Linked DNA regions of Homo sapiens: all the other regions are linked to region 3. The links come from fine-mapping of genetic effects on plasma protein levels. A gene starts in region 3. Each other region holds a variant in brackets. All regions are shown on one strand. Distances are from middle to middle.

Region 1 (2,663 bases), 17 kb before region 3:
CACCCGCCGCCACGCCGAGCTAACTTTTTTGTATTTTTAGTGGAGACGGGGTTTCACCGTGTCAGCCAATATGGTCTCGATTTCCTGACCTCGTGATCCACCCAACTCGGCCTCCCAAAGTGCTGGGATTACAGGCGTGAGCTACCATTTTTTTCCTTTAAAAAAATTTTTTGGGTGTGCCCAGTGGCTCACATCTGTAATACCAGCAATTTGGAAGGCCAATGTGGGAGGATCACTTGAGCCCAAGAGTTCAAGACCAGCCTGGGCAACATAGGGAGACCCCCCCCCCCCATCTCTACAATAGGATTATAAAAATTAGCTGGGCTTGGTGGTACATGCCTGTAGTCCCGCCTACATGGGAAGCTGAGGTGGGAGGATCACTTGAGCCCAGGAGTTTGAGGCTGCTGTAAGCTATGATCGCACCACTACACTCCAGCCTGAGTAACAGAACAAGAACTTGAAAATAAAATCTTGTTTGTTAACATTTATTAAGCATTTAGTATGAGCCAAGCGTTTTTCTAAGTGCTTTACATAGATTTGTTCATGCAATCCTCATAGCAACTCAGTGAATTAAATAATATTTTAATTCCCATTTCATGGAGAAATAGACTGGGACACAGAAAAGTTTAGAAATAATGGCTCATGAGAGGGAATGGTAACAGAGCCTACACTCTTCTTGATACTTATATTCTGGAGAAGAAGAATGAACATGGCTTAGTGAAACATTTCAGTACGTATACAAGTCCACAAACATGGCACTAACCAATGAAAGCATCTAAATAAATGTGAAGTCCTTAGAAGAACAGAACAGAAACAGCCTTCCAAAGACTAACTTCATCAGCTCACACTTAGTAAGTCCTGATAACATTGCAAGTATAAAAAAGAAGAAGGATGCCAGGAGATTTCAACATAAAATACATCTCACATGACTGTCCTGAGAAAAATTCAACTAAATTAATGAAAACTGCAAAGATATGCATAAATATGGGGTCAGCTCTGAAATCTGCCAACTTACCAATAATTTATAATCACGAGGATCATACTGAAACAGTCTGATACCAGGATTGTTGGTCTGTTTTTCTAAAACACTCTTCACTGGTGTAACAGCAGGAGC[C/T]ACAAACAAAGAATTTACTGGACTTCCTGAACAAAACGTATGCACATAAACATACATTTTTAAATAAGAGTTTAACTATATTAAAAATATAAAGTTTCCAGATTAAGAGATTAACAGACATAACCAAGTGATATGTGATCACTAATGGATACTGACTTGAAACAACTGTAAAGAGACAATTTGGAGAAAATAGGGACATTTTTGTTATTGATACCAGATAATTATTGTTGATTTTGTTAACTAAGTTTGTGGTTATGTAAATTATCCATATATTTTAGCAATGAATATAGAATATGTAGTGCCAAAATGGATCCAGTGTTTGAGATTCACTTTCAAATACTCCAGCAAAAAATTAAAAGAATATAAGGCCAGGTGCAGTGGCTCATGCCTGTAATCCCAGCACTTTGGGAGGCCGAGGCGGGCAGATCACTAGGTCAAGAGATCGAGACCTTCCTGGCCAACATGGTGAAATTAGCTGGGCGTGGTGACACACATGTAGTCCCAGCTACTCGGGAGGCTGAGGCAGGATAATCACTTGAACCAGGGAGGCAGAGGTTGCAGTGAGCCGAGATCGCAGGGTGCGCTCCAGCCTGGCAACAGAGCGAGGCTCCGTCTCAACAACAAAACAAAAAAACTGAAAAATCTTGATAGATGTTGAATGTGAGTGTTGAGTACATAGGAGGTTTGTTTGTATCATTCTCTCTGCTTATATATGTATCAATAAGAACTTGCAAGTAAGAGCTTAATATATTTTATTTTAAGCCGTTGTGTAAATTGTGCTTTGCTTTCTAAATTCTGAGAAATAAAACATGTAGCATCAAAAGAAACTTGAGTGTAGCAGTTAAAATAGAGTGATATTTCTTTAAACTCGAAGATTTAAAAGAACATTTGAGTGAGCTGAGGGTTTCTGAGGCTTTTGTGTTGACAGCAAATAAGTAACGCTGGCCCTGTGGAGCTAATAGGAGCTTACGTTGAAGAAATCCAGCTGCAGGCCTAATGTTGTGATTTGGACACTCATCATACAACCATTGAGGATAATTCAGAAAAGGCTAATGCTGGCAGATTTTTAAATAAAACGTTTAATTTACTAAATCAGCAAATTTACTGGATATTCACCGCTTTGCTCTAGACTCTTAGACTGGGGAGATGCAAACACAGCATTACATTACCTTTTTTATCTGAAAGAACCATAATGCTGTCTCTGTGAGTGTGTCCATAAAATTGTCCTGCAATGACATCACTGTATTTTTGAAAAATATCTATCAATTTCTCATTATAGTATTCTCTCATTGCTGTGATGTTCTGTGAAGATGGCAGATACCCCACTGGAACATGTGCTATGATATACACCTGGAAAAAGAAACACAAAAAGGCCTCATGAGAATCTTTCTGCACATTCATCATAACTAAATGACATTTGGATACCCAAGATTGAAAGTATATTAATTAAAATTTAGAAAGCAAATATATCATCTCTTCTATTTATAAGAAAAAGAGATGAAATTATAAAACTATTAGGGTCACTATATTTGTACACTGTTGATGATAT
Region 2 (2,687 bases), 38 kb after region 3:
AATTTCATTATAAAGCCAGAGAGAAACGGTTAGTCTCGCAGACAGAATTTTTTTCAGAGAGCTGCTAAGCATTTTGTCTAGAGTAAGCATCTTTCTTTTGCTTTGCCTTTATGAAAATGGCATTTTGTCTTTAGCTGGGACTCTTAAAGAAACCACAGCAAAAAACAATGGAAACAACACAGGCTTAGTTAGTGGACTCAACAAACCAGAGAGAGACCACTAACCCTATGCAAGCCTCAGCTTGACTAATAACTTTCTTGAACTAAGCAGGTGATGGCAAAAGACTAGGCAATAACAATGTAGAGGGGGTAGAGATGGCTAAAATTTTGGGTTGGGAAACAGACTACACTGTCTGTAAACTCTAAATAGAGCCACAAGGCTTACTTCGCTGGAGACTATCCAAATTCACCCATGGTGTCCTGGCATAATTATTAAGTGTCCCCTTTCACTTTCAGAAGTGTACTAGCTTAGACAAAGGTCCAAGAGATTCTATCTATAGAAAAACCAACTCTTCACCCCTTATGCAAGAAGTTTCCTCAGAGCTTATTCATAAAGGAGAAATTCAGCCAGCATCATGCCAATATCTCCAGGAGGGTAAGGTTGGGGGTGGGAATGGCTTAGGCCAACATTTAGAGGAAAGAAATCCCCTATATATAAAATGTTGACAATTCTAGCCAAAGAGATTGCAGATGTAACCCACTATTTAGGTTTAACCCTGCAGAGGGGTTAGGAAATATTACCCATAGAACCACAGAGTGCATGCATGCATGATTGAGGGACTTACTATTTTTGTGAAATAGATTCTGTACAGAAAACTAATTCTCACCCTTTTAAAGATTGCAGGCAAGGATGAACACATCTAAATGAGAAGTCAATTTTCTTCCTCAGAACACAGAGTTACTAGAACAAAATAACATTTTGAAATATAAATCATTGATTTTTTTATATTTGCTCCTTTGCCTTTTCCTCAATCAAATTAGTACATTAGAAAAGTTGCTAGGGGAGGTTTGCTAACAAAGAAAATTGGGAGATGGTGGTGGGGTTAGGGGTGGAAAGCTGGGGTGGGTGGTGGTTTTTCAGTTACAGAAGTCAAAGCATTTGGGTTTGGGGACCCAGGGATATAAACAATGGGCCTGAGAGAATGTCTGCTGACATAAGAGCCAGTCCTCCAGCTCAGGTTTTATAAGATCTGTAGGAAATAAAGATGACCTGGGTTGGGGCAGAGGGATGAGAGGAAAGCAAGGAGGGAGATGGGGAGGAAGCAAGAGAGCCTGGGAGCTAGCAAGGCCCTGAGGAGCCCCAGATTCCTTTGCCGGCTTCCCTTCCTCAGGCTGAGTGCTGAAATAGGTGTACAAGGTAGAAATCCTTCTTAAATTTGGAAGGATATGA[G/A]GGTTGAAGCGTTTGTACCTCAGTTCCCAGGTGGAGTGGAAGGTGGAAAGCTTTGTTGAGTTCTGCAGCATAGCAGAGCATAATAATAGAATGTGCCATTTGCATTATTTAAATAGATGTCTCTGACACAGAATTTCCGAGCTGAATGTTTCTTATGTGCTCAAAAAAAGTGAAAATAACTAAGTGTAAAGTGAAACCAGAAGGGTCTTTTAGACAGGATGTGGTAGTAACTATGTGGAAGCTTTAAAGGAAGACTTCTCGGCATAGATGCCTGCATGCATAGATGGTGAAAATTGAGGACAAGATGCACCCACAGTACCTGGCTTCCTCACAGCCCATCACCATCACCTGCAATATAGGGACAACAGGAAGGATGAGGCAGTAAGAATAGAAGCACACATTTATGTAGGGACCAGGCATGTAGTTTACATATTCTGTGTAGTTTACGTATATTAACACACTTAATTCTCACAACCACCCTATGATGTAAATACCACTATAGTACTCACTTTATGGATGAGAAAACAGGCATGCAGAGGTTAAGAATAAAAATTCTGAATTAATTTAGAGTAAGTGGAACTAATTGACAACAATTTTATGATACCTTCTAGACTAGAGAACTCAAAGAAAAAAATTTAAGCACACATATTTATTTATTCATAATACATATGATTTTATTGCATACCTAAATTTTCACACAGACATGTGAACCCACTAAAGATATCTATTGGGAATTATGAGGTGATATATAAACCAGCTAATAAAGACTGAAAATAACAGCATAATTGGCATGAAAACACAGAAAAAGTCAGAGTAACTCAAGCAGTCCAAAAGAACAGGCAAAGCTTCAAAATCCGAACTTTTCAGCGTAGTCTCTCAACTTTCCCTTATTCTTCCACTCATCAGCTAACTCCTGACTTCAGTTTTCTCTCTTCACTGGCTTTGCCTGAGACTAAAGTCTGCTTTTATCAACACCTTAAATTATCACACAACATTCCGGTTTAGACCAAGTTTCTTGTCTTCTTTGTTTAGTTCTTCCTTTAACAGCAGTGGGGCCCAGGGGAGGGTAAAAATAAGGCTCACATACCATTAAACATATGTCTTATCTCCCTACCTTGCCAAATACACTTTCCTAATGAAAAAATCCAAAGACATGGGTAACAAACACTATGGTTTCATAAGGCTGAAAACTAGCAAGATATCAAAGACAAATGAATTTAGTTATTATTGCACATGTCTGGTTGTACTGTTGATGCATGATTAATGTATAAATCAGTAATAAAGACAAGTTTAATTTT
Region 3 (2,687 bases):
AGCGCTCATTCAGGCCTCTTTAAAACACAGGTGAATTTGCCATTGTGTGGCCTCAAGCAACGTGAGACATTTTATTTCAAAACCCTAACCGGTCACATAATTAAAGGAACACAAGCTAAGCCGTAATAAAAGCAGAAACCAGTATACATAAACATTTTGGGGAAATTTCTTGTAATGACTGACATTTGCCACAGTTCGGAAACCAGATTTACAGTTTTTGCTTCAGACCTGACAGCTGAGTCGTGAGGACTTGGCCTTCAAAGAGAAGATATTTGCCCTAGAGCGCTCCCAAGTCCTGAGAAAGCACAGAGGGAGCGAAAGAGGTTTCAGCACTAGGTGCTGCTACCGAGTCTCAGGGACAACTCTCCCCTAAAAGAAAACAGAACCCCACTTCTCTAATTTTGTTTTTCCTCTTAACAGTGCAATTATTTTTAAAGGGAGTTGAGGAGGTGAGGGCACCTTGATTTTTGGAACTGGAGGCTCGGATGGCATTGTACAATCTCCCACCAAAATGTATCTATTCTGGACCAGTGAGTCTCAAACTTAGCCGAAAGGAATCATGCGGAGGGTGGGTTAAACAGCATACTGTGGAAGCCCAACGCCGGCGTTTCAGATTCAGTAGGTCTGGGATGGGCTGGAAATTTGCAATGCTAACAATTTTAAGTGCGGCGGCTGCTGCCACCGGTCCAGGGCACACTTAAGAGAATCACTACTGTAACGGGCACTGTGTTAAGTGCTGGGAGTGAATAAAATGGGTCCCGCCCGCAGGAAACCTAGTGGACATCCAGGTGAAATGAAGTCCCCGTGAGTTCCACGGTAGACTAAGGGGTGAGTCTACCCGAGGGTGCTTTCGCGCTCTGGCTGGGTGAGTGGCAGAAAAAGCCACTGATCTCGGTCGAGCAAGACAGAAGATAGTGTGAGTCACGCTGAAATTTACTTCCCTGAGCTGGTGGGGAAACTGCAGTCCCCCTCCATTCAGGACCGATTAGGGGCCTCTTGCTGTGCTGGACATCGGACTCCCAGCTTCCTCTTCCCTTGAGTCCCGCAGCTTTTCCTTCCTTCCCCAAGGAACAAAACAACTGAGATGCAGGATGTAAACAAAAGCCAGGCTGGCGAAATCCGGCCGACGCGCCCTTGGAGCGCCCCCACCGGCGAGGGCATTTCCCCCGCCCAGCCCCGGCCTCCCGGCTGGACGCCCTAACGCTGTAGTCCCTTGGTCGCCCTCCCCGCGCCCACCAGCCGTGGTCAACGCCGGACGCGTCAGGGGCCCCGCTAGCCCGAGCCTCTGCCGGGGGCAGCTGCCCCCACGCACTTTCTCCTGCTGTGCGCAGGCGCCGCCGCTCCGCGCTCTTTGCCGGCTGGGAAGAGAAGGGTCGCGGACAACTCACCTATCGCCGGAGGAGGATTCCTGCCGCCTGCGGGCGCCACGGGCAGCCCGAGGCCGGAGCGGCAGTGCCAGGCAGTCAGCAGGCAGCAGACGAGTGCGCGCACCAGCGCCATGGAGGGCCGCGGGGCTGACCTGGAGGTTCGGGCTGTCCCGCAGCTCCACTCGGACCGTCAGGCCTGAGGGTGAGGCGGAGACAGAAGACGGCTGCGGGTGTAGACGTCCGACTGATCACGTGCAAAGGCAGATTCCGCAGCGAGTCAGTTCGCCTGACCTTCAGCTGCTGTTTAGCGATGATCTGTTCTCGTATTTCTTAGCGTCAGTGTTTGGCCTAGGAAGGAATGTACTTGTAGAAGCTCAAATTCCGACTCGTGTATCAGTGGTGCAGTTGATGTCAAACACTGACATACTGGTGCTTGGGGATAGAGAAAGACATTCAATTTAGTAAAAGCCAGAAGGAGGGAGAACAAGATCTCTCAAATCCGTGTGTAAAAAGGAAAAAGCAGGGAGTTTTTATTCTGCTAGAGAATAAGAGAGGGGGATTTTCAAAGAATCCAGGGGAAAAGTCTGTTTCTTCAGTCTCAGATAACACCTTTGAGCAATTAGACGTCCAGGCATCCGCAGCTGGTTGCAAAGCCCTTGGAGGTATTCATCCCTTCTGCAAACATTTTTGTGACCCTGAAGTTAACCTCTTTGTTCTTGACGAGGAAGCAGTACCTCAGCAGTTTATAATTATATTGTGGAAACAAGGAGAATATTGGGCAAAAAGCGAGTGGTTAAAATGTGCAAGCAAGCAGGAGCCTGATCAGAATTTTCATTATTTCAGTCACTAAAAAATGCTGGGGTGCTGAAATCTCAACGATCCCGGTTCCATTCTTGGGCCAACCTACCCCAGCTTTAATGGGTAGGGCTCCTCAGTAGAGGTGATGCAGAGAGCCCTGAAGTATCATGATTTGAAGGAAATCAGCAAAAGTTATGGATACTGCAGTGGATCTCGAATTGAAGTCTCTGAACTGGGAACATTAGCACCACCTGGGAACTCTAGTTAGAAATGCAAATTCCCAGGCACCACCCTAGACCTGTTGAGTCAGAAACCTGCTGGAGCCCAGCAGTTTGTGTTTTCACAAGCATTTCAGGTCATGTTAAAGTGATTGTGATGTTTGAAAACCAATGCTCAAAGATACGACGTTTTGTTTTTTGTTTTTTTTAAACTGCCGGGAAGAGAAGGGTCTTAGAATTAGAACATGTTCTGAAATCATGCTTTATGCATTCCAGAGATGCATGGAAATCATAAGTAGAGGTG
Region 4 (2,687 bases), 12 kb before region 3:
TATTTTTGAGAAGCTGCTTTCATGTCCAAGTAGTAGAAAATGACAACAGGTCTCACTAGGGCCTCTGGGATGACAAAGTTTGAGGCCCCTCATGCAAGACATCTCTGCCCCAAATCACTTTTGCCTTTAAGACTTTCTCAGGATGGCTTCTATGATTTTTAACTTAATATTATACTCCAGTGTTTAACTGGATCTTTGAGGGCTATCATTGGAATGGATATCATTATGAAACTCATATGGCTTTTTCTTAGGGCCTGCATTCCACTTCTCAGCTTTTTTCTGCCTCCCCTGCTTTATGCTGAGTCTCCTTAGAAGGCAGAGCATTTCTTTAGGGATCTTGATCATTCTTTATGGCTCTCCCTTCAACCTGCATAAGCTCTCCACGTGTCTTGTAGGATGTGAAGTGTAAGACTAGACATAGGCCGGGCACGGTGGCTCATGCCTGTAATCCCAGCACTTTGGGAGGCTGAGGCAGGTGGATCTCCTGAGGTCAGAAGCCCGAGACCAGCCTGACCAACATAGTGAAACCCTATCTCTACTAAAAATACAAAAATTAGCCAGGTGTGGTGGCAGGTGCCTGTAATCCCAGCTACTCAGGAGGCTGCAGCAGGAGAATCGCTTGAAACCAGGAGGCAGAGGTTGCTGTGAGCCAAGACCATGCCATTGCACTCCAGCCTGGGCAACAAGAGTGGAACTCCATCTTAATAAAAAAAAAAAAAAAAAAAAGACTAGATATAGTTCCCTAGATTAATCAGAACCATAGTCTAATTCTAAGCTATCATGTCTCAAATTCATATATACTATGATTTGCTGCATGCTAGCAAAAACAATAACAAAATAGTGGCAAAAGCCAAAGGGTTAACAAAAATACCGAAAGAAGTATTTTAACTGAGAGAAGTCTAGCCATTAACTTAATATTTGTCTCAACATTCTGAAAACACCAAAGTCTTAGTTTAACAGCTGCACACCTCAGTTAAGCTCACAAAATGTCAGGGATTTACATAATGATGTGTCAAGAGCCAGTGGAGCAGAGGGCCTTTAGACATGACCCAGGGAAGGCCTTACTATGCACTAATTATGCATTACTTTCCCAAGCACCTCAAAGTCCATGTTAAAAGCTTAGTTATCCTCACTTTACCAGCTCTTTGTTTTATAAAATTGTGCTGCTTGGTTAGAAGTTAGTGTCCATTCTCTCTTCTCAATCAATTTTCCAATTAGAAACATACACTTTTATTTACATTCAAATCCAAAGTTCAGCTTTTGCTCCATGGGGAACATACCTACCTAATTAAGAGTAGAAGAAGAAAAAAGAATAGAAGAAAAACAGGAAGAGCTCCCTGCAAGATAAACAGGTTCACGACCTGTGTCACAGGCAGCATTACTACTCACTGTCCTCCACAAAAACTGGGGGCTGTGCTCCAGAAGTGGCACACTCAAGCAAACATTAAAAATTTAAGTCTAAATAACATGAATAAAAATTGAGGCAAAATAGGAATAACTAAGTCTTTCACTTACCTTTCCTTAAAGTACTAATAGCTTCTTCATCTAGCCATGGTTTCCAGAGGTTTGCTACTGCATTGTACACTTTACTGGTGACTACAGGCAGTTGATCCTGGCCACAAACAATATAATCCACCATTGAAATTTAAAGATACACAGCTGAATTAATGTAAAC[A/G]CTACTTGAGCACTGACTACTACGTTAGGCATCTAGAGATGCAAGGATGATTATTAGATAGACTTCATCTTCAAGGAATTATAACTTAGTTGGAGACTGGGGGATAAAATGTAACCAATTAACTATAAGACAATGTGCTGGGCACTACCCAGAGGTCCGGGGAGCCTAGAAGCAAGAACAATCAAGTGTAGCCAAGGGCCAGGTGCAGTGGCTCATGCCTATAATCCCAGCACTTTGGGAGGCCAAGGCAGGCGGATCACTTGAGGTCAGAAGTTCAAGAAGTGTCTGGCCAATATGGTGAAACCCCATCTCTACTACAAACACAAAAATTACCCAGGCATGGTGGTGAGCACCCATAATCATAGCTACTTGGGAGGCTGAGGCAGGAAAATCACTGGAATCCGTGAGGCGAAGGTTGCAGTGAGCCAAGATCGCACCACTGCACTTCAGCCTGGGCAACTGAGTGAGGCTCTGGCTCAAAAAACAAAAAAACAAACAAACAAACAAACAAAAAAGGTGTAGCCCAGGGAATTAGAGAGTGAAGAGACTATTTAAGCCAGGCCTTAAATAAGGACTTTATCAACTTAACAAAAGGGCATCAAAGCAAATGCAATGGCCCAGATACAAACATAGGCATAGGCATAGGCACAGGCAAAAGCACAGAGTTCCATAGGTGTGTACCATGTACAGAGAAAAGCTCATGTTTTAGCATGGCTAGGATATGGGAAGGATGTGGGAGTGTGCTCATTAAAGAGATGCCAAAGGCAGGTTTGAGCCTGCACATGCACTGCCCGATGCAGCATGCCGAGGGAACGGGAAAACATCATGTTTTAGAATTTAACAAAGTCTTCTGAACTGTTCAAACTATTATAAGCTTCTTAACTCTTTGAATAAAGATTTACAACCACATGCTTTTGATTTGGAGAAGTCTCTTTAGGGCAGCATAAATTATATCAAAATATTTTGATTTTTTAAATAACACATTTTAAGTACAAAACATTTTTATTATCAT

Alleles and levels. Positions count from the first base shown, and alleles are read on the strand shown. Strength reflects both the effect of a copy and how common the allele is. Not every link is listed here.
For the plasma level of the protein whose gene starts at base 1,589 in region 3, G is the high allele of the variant in region 2 and A is the other (moderate association).

The links. PIP is the posterior inclusion probability: the model's chance that the variant is causal. Protein levels are from antibody-based Olink assays in UK Biobank. Linkage for the fine-mapping came from a reference panel and not from the study's own genotypes, which makes the PIPs less certain.
Region 1: its variant is fine-mapped to the plasma level of the SMPDL3A protein (UK Biobank, PIP above 0.99). The variant lies in the coding sequence of SMPDL3A. If it changes the protein, the assay may bind it differently, which can mimic a change of level.
Region 2: its variant is fine-mapped to the plasma level of the SMPDL3A protein (UK Biobank, PIP 0.93).
Region 4: its variant is fine-mapped to the plasma level of the SMPDL3A protein (UK Biobank, PIP above 0.99).

What each region holds. Positions count from the first base shown.
Region 1 is chr6:122,804,710-122,807,372 of GRCh38, reverse strand. It overlaps SMPDL3A (sphingomyelin phosphodiesterase acid like 3A), which reads right to left. Exons shown (of 8, transcript NM_006714.5): 6 at 2,284-2,464; 7 at 1,016-1,140. Among named protein-coding and RNA genes, the nearest start is that of SMPDL3A, 17 kb to the right of the region's middle. The variant C/T (reference allele first, on the strand shown) is at 1,115.
Region 2 is chr6:122,750,431-122,753,117 of GRCh38, reverse strand. It overlaps a transcript of FABP7 not described here. Among named protein-coding and RNA genes, the nearest start is that of FABP7, 28 kb to the left of the region's middle. The variant G/A (reference allele first, on the strand shown) is at 1,390.
Region 3 is chr6:122,788,160-122,790,846 of GRCh38, reverse strand. SMPDL3A (sphingomyelin phosphodiesterase acid like 3A) reads right to left here and starts at 1,589. Exons shown (of 8, transcript NM_006714.5): 1 at 1,389-1,589. The coding sequence starts at 1,500. RefSeq lists silencers at 1-163, 1,269-1,563 and enhancers at 778-1,277, 1,278-1,779.
Region 4 is chr6:122,800,235-122,802,921 of GRCh38, reverse strand. It overlaps SMPDL3A (sphingomyelin phosphodiesterase acid like 3A), which reads right to left. Exons shown (of 8, transcript NM_006714.5): 4 at 1,516-1,612. Among named protein-coding and RNA genes, the nearest start is that of SMPDL3A, 12 kb to the right of the region's middle. The variant A/G (reference allele first, on the strand shown) is at 1,676.